Regions from separate parts of the Homo sapiens genome. Here region 2 is linked to region 1. Evidence: fine-mapped expression QTL. A gene starts in region 1. The other region holds a variant in brackets. All regions are shown on one strand. Distances are from middle to middle. Region 1 holds the start of RPH3A (rabphilin 3A). Region 2 overlaps RPH3A (rabphilin 3A).

What was found.
Region 2: its variant is fine-mapped to the expression of RPH3A in whole blood (INTERVAL, PIP above 0.99).

Annotation. Positions count from the first base shown.
Region 1 is chr12:112,789,128-112,794,513 of GRCh38, reverse strand. RPH3A (rabphilin 3A) reads right to left here and starts at 2,766. Exons shown (of 22, transcript NM_001143854.2): 1 at 2,502-2,766; 2 at 2,251-2,371. RefSeq lists an enhancer at 2,133-2,674.
Region 2 is chr12:112,884,140-112,889,525 of GRCh38, reverse strand. It overlaps RPH3A (rabphilin 3A), which reads right to left. Exons shown (of 22, transcript NM_001143854.2): 17 at 1,603-1,729. Among named protein-coding and RNA genes, the nearest start is that of OAS1, 20 kb to the left of the region's middle. The variant G/A (reference allele first, on the strand shown) is at 2,248.

The sequences.
Region 1 (5,386 bases):
TGAGGCCATAAATAAAGCAGACCCCTTTCCAGCTGAGCTCAGGATTCTAGAAACCTAGCAAAGTTCTCACAAGAGACTCCCCTATCCCCAATCACCCCAAACAGGGCCTCTCCCCGACACAGGATAAATTCTCAAGCACAGTGCTAACCCTTCCTAGAAATGTGGGCATGTGCAGTCACTCACACTCACACACATACCTATCTCATAGTCAGAGAACCCCAGAACTTGAAGGGGACTTAGGGCCACCCAGACAGACTGCCCCATTGCATAGATGGGGAAGCTGAGGCCCAGAAAGGGGAGACAGCTGGGACTGGAACCCAGGTCTCCTGACCCAAGTCCAAGGCTCTTTCCAGAAGCTTCTCTTTCCCTTTCCCTGGTGCACCACAATGCACCACTTCAAATGTGATGGGGGAGGAGGGAGGGCGGCCTCTTGGATCTTGGCCATCCCTAAGGAAGTGACCCAGTGGAGAGATATTTGGGAAGTGTCCACATCTGGACACCCAAGTATTAGCTATCCCAGCTGGGCTGGCCTGTACTGCATGGCTAAACCAGTTGTTAAAAATATTAAAATAAAATATAAATATTAAAATTAAATGGGGATGCTGCCCTGAGGCCTCGTGGCTCTCTTGATAGCCCCCTAAGATCCCCCCAAACCTCTCCATAATCCAGCAATTAAAAGATTAACACTCAGTACAGCAGGGGCCCCCTAAGATGCCCTATTCCAGGACCCTAGCCATTCTGATCGATTAGTACCAAATTTCAATACTTTAAATATCACCCATAGCCAGATATGTGGTTCTTTTTTTGAACAAAATTTCCACACATTCATTATTCACACTCAAGTCTTCCCAGTGAGGAATCTAAGGCAACTTCCTCCTCAAGGTCACCCAGCAAGAGAAGCTAGGAAGAGAAGTTAGGGATTTTGAGAACCAAATCTTTGACACTAACCACCAGACAACCCTCCTCTTCTGCCTCATATGTCCTGCCTGAGCAGGCACATGCTGTGGGATTTCAGCATCTCTTCTTAGCTATGGGGCTAGAGAAAAAAAGAATGAGTGAACCCTGCTTATATTTCAGGCTTGCCAATCTCTGACTGTTGTTTTATTCCTCCCACCTCCAAGAGCAAGAATCTAAAAAGGAAATCCTTGGGGGTGCAGAACACTGAGGTGGCCCCTGAGATAATAGCAAAAATGCTAAAAACAAGGGCATTCATTTCCAGAAAAGTAGATGTAATCAAAGCAGAAAGCAAAGTGAAATCCCCTTTTGATGGGTAGCAGATTAGCATCAAAAGCATTTCAAAATTAAATGTGAGCTTTTGGATTCAATTTCAAGGTACTTCCACTTCCCACTCACTAACAGGTTGGTGCAGCCTTTCCCCATCAGGATCTTGGAAAAAGAAACTAGTGCAGGGGGACGGTCTACCCTGGAACAAAACTGAAGCTGAAGCCTGGAATCTTTCCCCAGAATTTGAACAAGCTTTGTTCCCCTCCTTCCTTCTGAGATGAACTCAAGGATAGAATCTCCCAAGCTAGTGCCAGGACGCTCCCCCATACAATCACTTACAGGTTACGCCACCTGTGAAAATAAAACATCATCTCCTCTGCAGGCAGTGGCTGCTCCCTTCTGGCCAGCCTGACCACTCATCCCAGGCATAGTGTGGCCCTTTCCTGGCTCCCAGGTCTTCCATCTCAGGAAAGCGTGAACAGCCAACCTCGCAAAAATCACCACAATTAAATTACTCAGCTGTTCCTAGAAGAGGGTACAATCTAAGCTCTGTCCTGTGCAAATCTTACCCAGTGTGCCCAGGCAAAAGTTACCCTTCCAGTCTCAGGTGACCCCCTCCCCTCCAGGGATAAGCACTCACTTGCTAAGTCAGAGTACCCAGAGTCCCTCCATGCTAGACTAGCCAGCCCCACGAAGGGTTAACTCTCTCAGAGAACTGCCGGCTACTTTCACCAGCTTCTGCTGCAAAGGAGAGGGCAAATTGGGCAGAAGCCACAATCTTGATCGCATTGCCTACAACATGAGCACATTTTACCCCCTCCCTGGGCACTAAGCCAAAATCTCATTTGGCTTTGGGATGCCGCTTAGGTGATAAAACACTGCAGGATGTAGGCAAATAAGCATAGTCGTTCCTCGATACCCTTCTCCTCCCAACTACCCTTTACCCCACCAGCTCATGAACACACATCACAATTGGGATTCCAACACCCCTAGCCCATCTGCACAACCCGGGAGAATATCACTTACCGCGACGCTGGAGGCTTGCAGGGGGAATGGGTGAGCCAAATTCTTGCCAACTCCTCCCTTCCCTGCCGGGTAGAAAGACGCTAAGTCCCAATGACTTGGTTTAAAAGCTCAGCGGAGGTGCCTGAAAGAAAATTGTTCATTTGACTCTCCTACTCTTCCCAAAATAAAATCAAAGCACCAGTGCACACACGTAGACACACAGACACATCAACTACCCCTAAATCATGCAGGACCAAGACAAAAAGAAATACCACTGCCAGAAGCGGAGAAAACTCGGACCAGCCAGTGAGTCAGTGGACAAGGGACAGTGGCTCCCTCAGACTGTCCTCCACATGGATGAAGGTTTTAGCTCTGTGAGTCTCTCTCTCTCTCTCTCTCTCTCTCTCTCTCTCTCTCCCTTCTCCCTTCCTTTCCAGTCCGCGTAGGCAACTCCGGGCTGCTGGCAGTAGACGAATCAATTGCTTCCCCAGAGCCAGTTTCTGCCGCGGCTGCCACCACTACTGCAAAGCCCTGTGTGAGCAAGGGAAGCGGGGCGGCAGCTTCCCAGTGCAGGGGGAACCAAGCGGGAACCAAGCCTGCCTCCCACCCGTGATTTATGTGTGCGGTGCCTGGAGAAAGAAAGGTGGGAGGCCGGGAGGGGAGGTTGGGCGCACCAGAGATCCCAGCTGGTCGAAACGGCAACCAGGGGATTGGCGGTCAGCACCACGGACAGCGCTAAGATGCCTTGGAGGAGGGGATGGGTGGGAAGCGAACCCCTAGGCAGAGAAGTTAAGTAATTGGATGGTTAAAGCAGAGAAGGGGGGAGTCCGGAGGGGTGGGGGACGGGACTTCTCGACATCACACAGTCTAGTCAGTGACAGCTTACCTACCACACACTTTTTCTAATACTGTCGCTCACTCTCAGAGCAAAGGAACTATAACTTCACAGCCCCTGTCTCCCACACGCCCCCAGTCCTGCATTGCTCCTCTCTGCTCAGACAAGAGCTTGGCACCGGTGTGGGGGGCTCCCTAAGTGGTTTTGCCCCTCAAAGTTTCGCCCAGATGACCTGTCCTCACCCCCATTGCTGCAGATTTTTGACCTGTACCTGGAGTTTCTCAGAATTCAGAGCAGAAAAGCTGAGGCTTAAGAAATGGAAATTTCTAAGGGGCAGGGTGGCTTAGTTGAATAAGCACTTGATGGTTTTCTGGAAGTCAGATCCAGCCCCCTTACAACTCTGGAAAAGTCATTTAATGTTTCCAAGTCCCATCTGTGAAAATGATAACATAATGACCTTATTTTTCCTAAAGATAGGAAGCAAGAGGTTAAAATGCAACAATAAGAATACCCAAGCTGTGAACTGCCATGATTTCATGGTCCATAACCTGTCCTAAAACACAAATGTTTGGACAGAGTGATAAAGGAATTGACAGCCCAGCTAGGATGGCATGTGCCAACCTCACCCTTCAGCAGGTGGTTTGAGTAGAATGAAGGGAAATTTTAGGTCTAAATCAGACCATTGAGCCTTGGCCAAAGAGCCTTCCCCGAAAGATCCAGACTGGCTTTCTGAAGTGAATTCACTATATGGACAATGAAATAAAAGTATCAAAAGGGGAAATATATAAAGATGAATGGATTCCCATGGCTCCCAGTGCTCCATATCTCAAGAGTCCTATTCCTCCTAACTTTGGGAAAGGGCTCAAATTGGAAAAAGGCCAGGAAATCTCAAACAGACCAAGATCTGCTTAGAACTTCTCTGCAAAGTGAAGGAGAACTCTCTCTATTGGAGACTCATATCTAAAGCTTCCCATCCAGATGGCCCAGGGTTAACTACTACATTTGTCACTTACTTCTCCCCATGAGACCCAGGAGTTAAAATGAGAACATTTAGAGCTCATTTAAAAAACAATTTTTTAAAGACAGTGTCTCTGCCAGGCGCGGTGGCTCATGCCTGTAATCCCAGCACTTTGGGAGGCCGAGGCAGGTGGATTACCTAAGGTCAGGAGTTCGAGATCAGCCTGGCCAACATGGTGAAACCCCATCTCTACTAAAAATACAAAAAAATAGCTGGGCATGGTGGTGTGCACCTGTAATCCCAGCTACTCGGGAGGTGGAGGCAGGAGAATCACATGAACCTGGAAGGCAGAGGCTGCAGTGAGCCGAGGTTGCACCATTACACTCCAACCTGGGCAACGAGAGTGAAACTCCATCTCAAAAAAAAAAAGAAAAAGACAGTGTCTCACTCTGTCACCCAAGCTGGAGCGCAGTGGTGCAATCATAGCTCACTGAAACCTTGAACTCCTGGGCTTAAGTGATCCTCCCACCCCAGCCTGTCCAGTAGCTAGGACTCAAGGTGCACACGAATATACCCTGCTAATTTTTTTTTTTTTTTTTTTTTTGCAGAGATGGGTCTCACTATATTGCCCCAGCTGGTCTTGAACTCCTCGCCTCAAATGAACCACCTGCCTCAGTGGTGGTGGTGGTGGTGGTGGTAGTAATTGTCATCATGATGGTAATCATAGTGATGATTATAGTGATGGTGTTGATTGACAATGATTATGCTGATGATGTTGATGGTGATGATTATGGTGGTGGTGGTGGTGGTGGCAATGATGGCTGCTATTGAAAACCTACTATGTGCCAGCTCTTCTGCTAGGAACTTTACATGTATCATCTTCTGAAGTCCTCACCATGACCCTTTCAGGACACTAGTATTATTCCCATCTTGCAAATGAGAAAACTTAGACTCAAGAAATAAAATTCCTTGCTCAAGGCTTCACAGTAAGTTACAGACACAGCATTCAAACTCAGTGTCGTATGATTCCAAAGAACATGCTCCAGGATGTCTCTCAGAGTTCATTTCAAATGCATTCTACAAGTTTGAGGGGAAAATTTTCATCGAATATTTTCTGGGATGATCCTGTGACATAAATTCAGTGTCCTCAATTTACAGATGGAGAAACTCGGGACCAGAGACGAGAATTGACTTGTCCATAATCAAAGAGCTAGGAAGTAGCAGAGTTGAGTATAGAATGCAAGCCTTTCAGATGCCAGGACCTGTGGTCTATTGCCTAGGGCAGTCCCAGGCACATAGGAAACCCTCAATAAACAATATCGTTTGTTTTATTTGAGACAGAGTCTTGCTCTGTCACACAGGCT
Region 2 (5,386 bases), 95 kb before region 1:
AACCTGAGGTCCAGAGGGGAGGGGCCCTCAGTGGGACATAATGGGGGAAGTTCGTGGTGCAAGGGTTAAGGTTTAATGGCAAAGAGCAAAAGAAGATGATCAGTAGTGTTCTGCGGCTGCTGCAGCCCTCTGGGTGTCCTGCACCTCCATGTCTCTGGGGCTGGCTGCATTCACCATAGCAAGATGGGAAGACCCAAAGGCTGATGACACAGGCAAGGGCCTGGCCATTGTCCTGGCCAACTGGACTCACGGAGTTGGAGAAGGAAGAGAAGCCTGAAGACCCAGCTGTCACCAGGCAAAAGCCCAGAAGAAGGGCCTCATTCCTAGGGATGTCTTTAAGGATTTATTCTGAGCCTGGAATTCAGTGGAAATCCTTCCTTGAAATTTTCCTTGTTTGGTCTTGTTCCTTTGCCTGAACTATAAAACTATGGCATGGCATGCAGACATTCCATCCTCAGGCTGGCCATCTGGTGGGAAGATGCTCCTGCACCCCATAGCTTCCCTGTGGAGAGCAGGCAGGCTGCCCAGAGAGACCAGGGGTGCTGGTGTTGTAGGAGAGCTGGACTCTGGCCAGTGCCCAGAGACCTTGGAGACTTGCTACCCTTTCTGGGCCCAAGTTGGCCCATACGTAAGGCAAGGCAGCCTGAATTATCTCTAAAAATATAGATTGTTGAGTCCTACCCTACCCCACTAAAACAGAATCTCCAGGGGAGACCCCCACAAATCTTAGCTTGTAAAGCTCTGGTTTTAGAATCCCCCGGTTAATTCTGAGGTGCAACCCCATTGCAGAACCTCACTTTGATCCTTGCTATTTTCTCAAAGAGCAAGAATCACATCTGACAACAACAATGACAGTTCTAATACTTCATATGTATTATCACATTCAATCCTTAAAAGATCCTATGAGGTTAGTACTACAGTATCCCATTTTACAGATGAGACATCTGAGGCCCAGAGAAATTAAATAATTTGCCTCAGGTTATACCCTAAGTGGCAGAGCCAGGATTCACACCCGAGAGTCTGGCTGCAGAGCCCATACTCTTAAACTCTAGGCTATGCTGTCTGCTGTTTATCTACATGGTGCTTTCTGACTTCATGACTGACAGGTGGGTAAGGCAGCAATATTTCCTACACTAACAACTGTTAATTTATGAGTGCTTACTATGCATTAAGTTCTATTTTGATTATGTTATTTTTTAAAACACAACCCTCCCAAGAGGCAGGTACTGTTATAACACCCACATTACAGACAAGAACACCGAGGCTCGGAGTGGTTCAGCCCCTTGGCCAAGGCCATGGAGCAGCAAGTGGCAGAGCTGGCTCTGAACCCAGGAAGCCCATGCTGCCCCTGCCATGCTGTCCATCCAGTTTGGCCAAGAAGAACTCATGTTCGAAGTGATGCTGACACAGGGTTTGTGAAAGGCAGAGAGAGAATGCAGCCTGAGGTTGTGAGCTGGAATCTTGACTCTCCTCTGCAGACCTGCTGCAGTGCCTCTGCTACCCAATACCCCGTGGATCTATTTCCCCCAATTCAGACCCAGAGGAAGGCAGCTCCCCCAATCTCCCCTCCTCCCATCAGATCCTCAGGGTAAAGTCACTCACAGGAATCACTCGCTCCAGGCAGATGTTGAAATTCTTCCTCTGGTTGGGCTTCAGTTTCTTGAGGGAGAATCTGGTCTCACCAATAAATTCATTGTGGCCAAATTTGTCCTCATCACAGACGGAGATCCTGCCACCAACACAAGGGGGTAGAGAGAGAAACAGGAACAAATATTAAGACACCACTGTGTGCCAAGAGTTGCAGCTGATACTGGTAAGGAATGTGTAATGTATGTGGAAATAATATGATTTCCTGTTTATTTATCACTGGACCAAGTACCTTTAACTTCTTCTTTATTGCAGTATAACTGACATGCAGTAAAGCACATAAATTTAGTTTATAGCTTGATGAACCCTTGCATTTGTATATACCCATGTAATTCCCACCCAGGTCAAGATATAAAACATTCCAGAGACTGAAAGATCCTCAGGATCCTTTCTAGTCACTGCCTGTCTCAAAGATAGCCACTCTTTTGCCTCTGGCCACATGAAGTCATTTGTCTGGTTTTTGACCTTCATATAAATGGAATCATATAATATAGACTCTTTTATGTTGGCTTCTCTTGCTCAAGATTATGTCTGTGAGATGCATCCATGCACAGTATAACTTATCCTTTTTATTGCTGCATAGTATTCCACTGTGTAAAT[G/A]TACCATAATAATTCTGCTGTTGATACAGGTTGTTTCTAGTTTTGAGTTATTATGAATAACGCTGCTATGGAATATTTATGTTCATGTCTTTCGGATATACATGTACATATTTCTATTGAGTATTTTCCTAGGAGTAGGGTTGCTGGCCATGGACTAGGCATAAGTTTAGCTTCAGTAGAAACTTCAAAACAGTTTTCCAAGGCAGTTCCACCAATTATGTCCCTACCAGCAGTTTATAAAGGTTCTGGTCACTCTTTATTCTCTTTGACTTCAATTATGTCAGTCTCTAATTTTAGCCTTTCTGGATGGGTCATAGTATGTCACTAGTTTTAATTTACATTTCCCTGATGATTAAAACAGTTGAGCCCCTTCTCATATACTTTATGGCCATTTGAGCATCCTCTTTTGCAAAGTCAGGCTAGGAACTTTTCTCATTTAATTTTTCCTATTTCAAAACAACTGCATTTACCATTTAGAGAAGATACTGGGGCCCAGAAAGATTAAATAATTTTTCCCTAATAAGAGGTAGAACCAGGGTTTGAATCCAGGTCTCCCTGAATCCTATAGTAATATATTGCCTTTTGTTATCTACCTTACACAGCATTGAGTAACAGTGGCACAAAAAAGGCAGGTCATAAGAAATGTCCCTTAGGACAAGAGTCTCCAACCCTCAGGCCATGGACCAGTACCAGTCTGTGGCCTGTTAGGAACCTGGCTGCACAGGAGGAGGTGAGCAGCAGGTGAGCAAGCATTACCACTTCAGCTCCGCCTCCTGTCAGATCAGTGGCAGCATTAGATTCTTACAGAAGCATAAACCCTATTGTGAACTGCACATGTGAGGGATCTAGTTTGCACGCTCCTTATGAAAATCTAATGCCTGATGATCCAAGGTGGAACAGTTTCATCCTGTAACCATCCTTCTCCCTACCCCAGTTCATGGAAAAACTGTCTTCCACAAAACTGTTCCCTGGTGCCAGAAAGATTGGGAACTGCTGCCATAGGAGACCAAAAGGACCAGTCACGGCATGATAATTCATCCTGACAAACACTAAGAGAGGAAAGGGCTTATTGTCCTGCAAGGCATGGGAGGCATTCTTGGGGGACAGGAAGGGACTGTAAAAGTACCGCACTCCTTGGCCACCAACATTAGTTGAACAAATGTTCAAAGTCCTGGAGGGCCCAAACACCCTCATAGCTGAGTCCTGCACTGTCTAACACTGGAGAAAAAACTTGTCTCTACTGAGCTGGTTGGGGTGTGAACAATATCATCCTTCTTCAGGGCAACGCATCTCCAAAGACATAAGAGAATAATCACTGTTTTTGACCCTGTAGCACCACTTATAGGAATTTACCTCAAATATATCATAAGGCAAGTACAAAAATATTTAACTACAATGGGTCCAAAAAATAGTTAGAAGGAATAAATGAGATCTAATATTTGATAGCACAACAGGGTGACTATAGTCCATAATAATTTAATTGTACATTTAAAAATAGTGAAAAGAGTATAATTTGATTGTTTATAACACAGGGATAAATGCTTGAGGTGATTAAAAAAGACATTTATTTTAACCCATTTAAAAAACTCATGATGCGATTATTACACACTGTATACCTGTATCAAATTATCCTATATACCTCATGAATATTAATATATACACCTACTATGTACCCTCAAAAAATTAGAAATATATTTAACTACAAAGATGTTTGTCACAATATTGTTTATAACTATGAAAAAAGCAGAAATAACAAATACTGTACAATGGAGGAACTGCTTAAGAAAATTATGAAATAACCACAAAATGTAATAGTGTACATTAGAGAAAGTGTTGTACTTAGTCATCAGGGAAATTTGGAACCACAACGCAACACCAGTGCACACCTACCAGAATGGCCAAAATGAAAAAGTGTTGATGAGGCTGTGAAGCAACTGGAACTCCCATGCATGGCTGATAGGAGTGCACACTGGCACAGCCACTATGGAAAACTGGCAGTTTCTATTAAAGCTGGACGTACCCATATCTTATGGCTCAATCATTACACTTCTAGGTATATATGCAACAGAAATAAGTGCACCTGTGCACCTAGAAACAGCTACTAGAATGTTCCTAGCAGCACTATTTGTAATAGCCCCAAACTAGAAACCACCCAAATACATCAACAGTAAACTGGATAAATAAAACTGCATTATATTCCTGCAATAAAATACTAAATAGCAACAAGAATGATCTACAACTACACACAACTTAGATGAATACACATGTAAAATGTTAAATGAAAGAATATAGATACAAAAGAGCCACACAATAAAATTTCATTTATATAAAGTACAAAAACAGACAAAATTAACTTGTCCTGTAAGATGTTAGGATATTGAATACCCCAGGGGAGCATTCAATAAGAAGGGGCCACAGTGGGGGTCTTCTGCAGTCTAGGAATGTTCCATTCCTTAAGCCCAGTATGTTCACTATTGTGAAAATTCATCAATCTGTGCATTTATATGTGCATTTTGCTAAATGAATGTTATGCCGCAATAAAAATATTTACTTAGAATAATGTTGCAGCCAATTGGGAAAGCAGTTTGCATGTCTTGTAAAATTGTTTTGGAAAACATCACATATCCCATGATCCAGTAATAATTCTCTTTGGTTTCTGTCCTAAGGAAACACTCATATGTACACAAGGAAGAATAAAGTTGCTCATTGCAACTTTGTTTGTAATAGAAAAAAGCTGAAAACAATTTAAATGTCCACCCAAAGGGAATTGGCTAAATAAACTGGTAAACATTTACACAAAAATTTAAAACATGCCAAACAATGCTGTACATTGTTTATAGATACATAATTATGAAGTATAAGACATACTTGAGAATGATACCCAAAGAATTCAGGATGGTGTCTAGCTCTTGGGAGAGAAGGAAGAGGACAGGACAGGGTGGGAGATAGAATATACAAAAGGAGCTTCAACTTGCATCGGGGGTGCTTTATTTCTTAAAAAAGAGCTGACGCAAACACAGCAAAATAGCAAGATTTTTAACAGATCAAGTATCGGGTGGGTTCATGGATGTTTGTTTTAGTATATTCTACACTTTTCTATTCATTTGTAATATTTAAGGATAAGAACATTTAAAAAAAT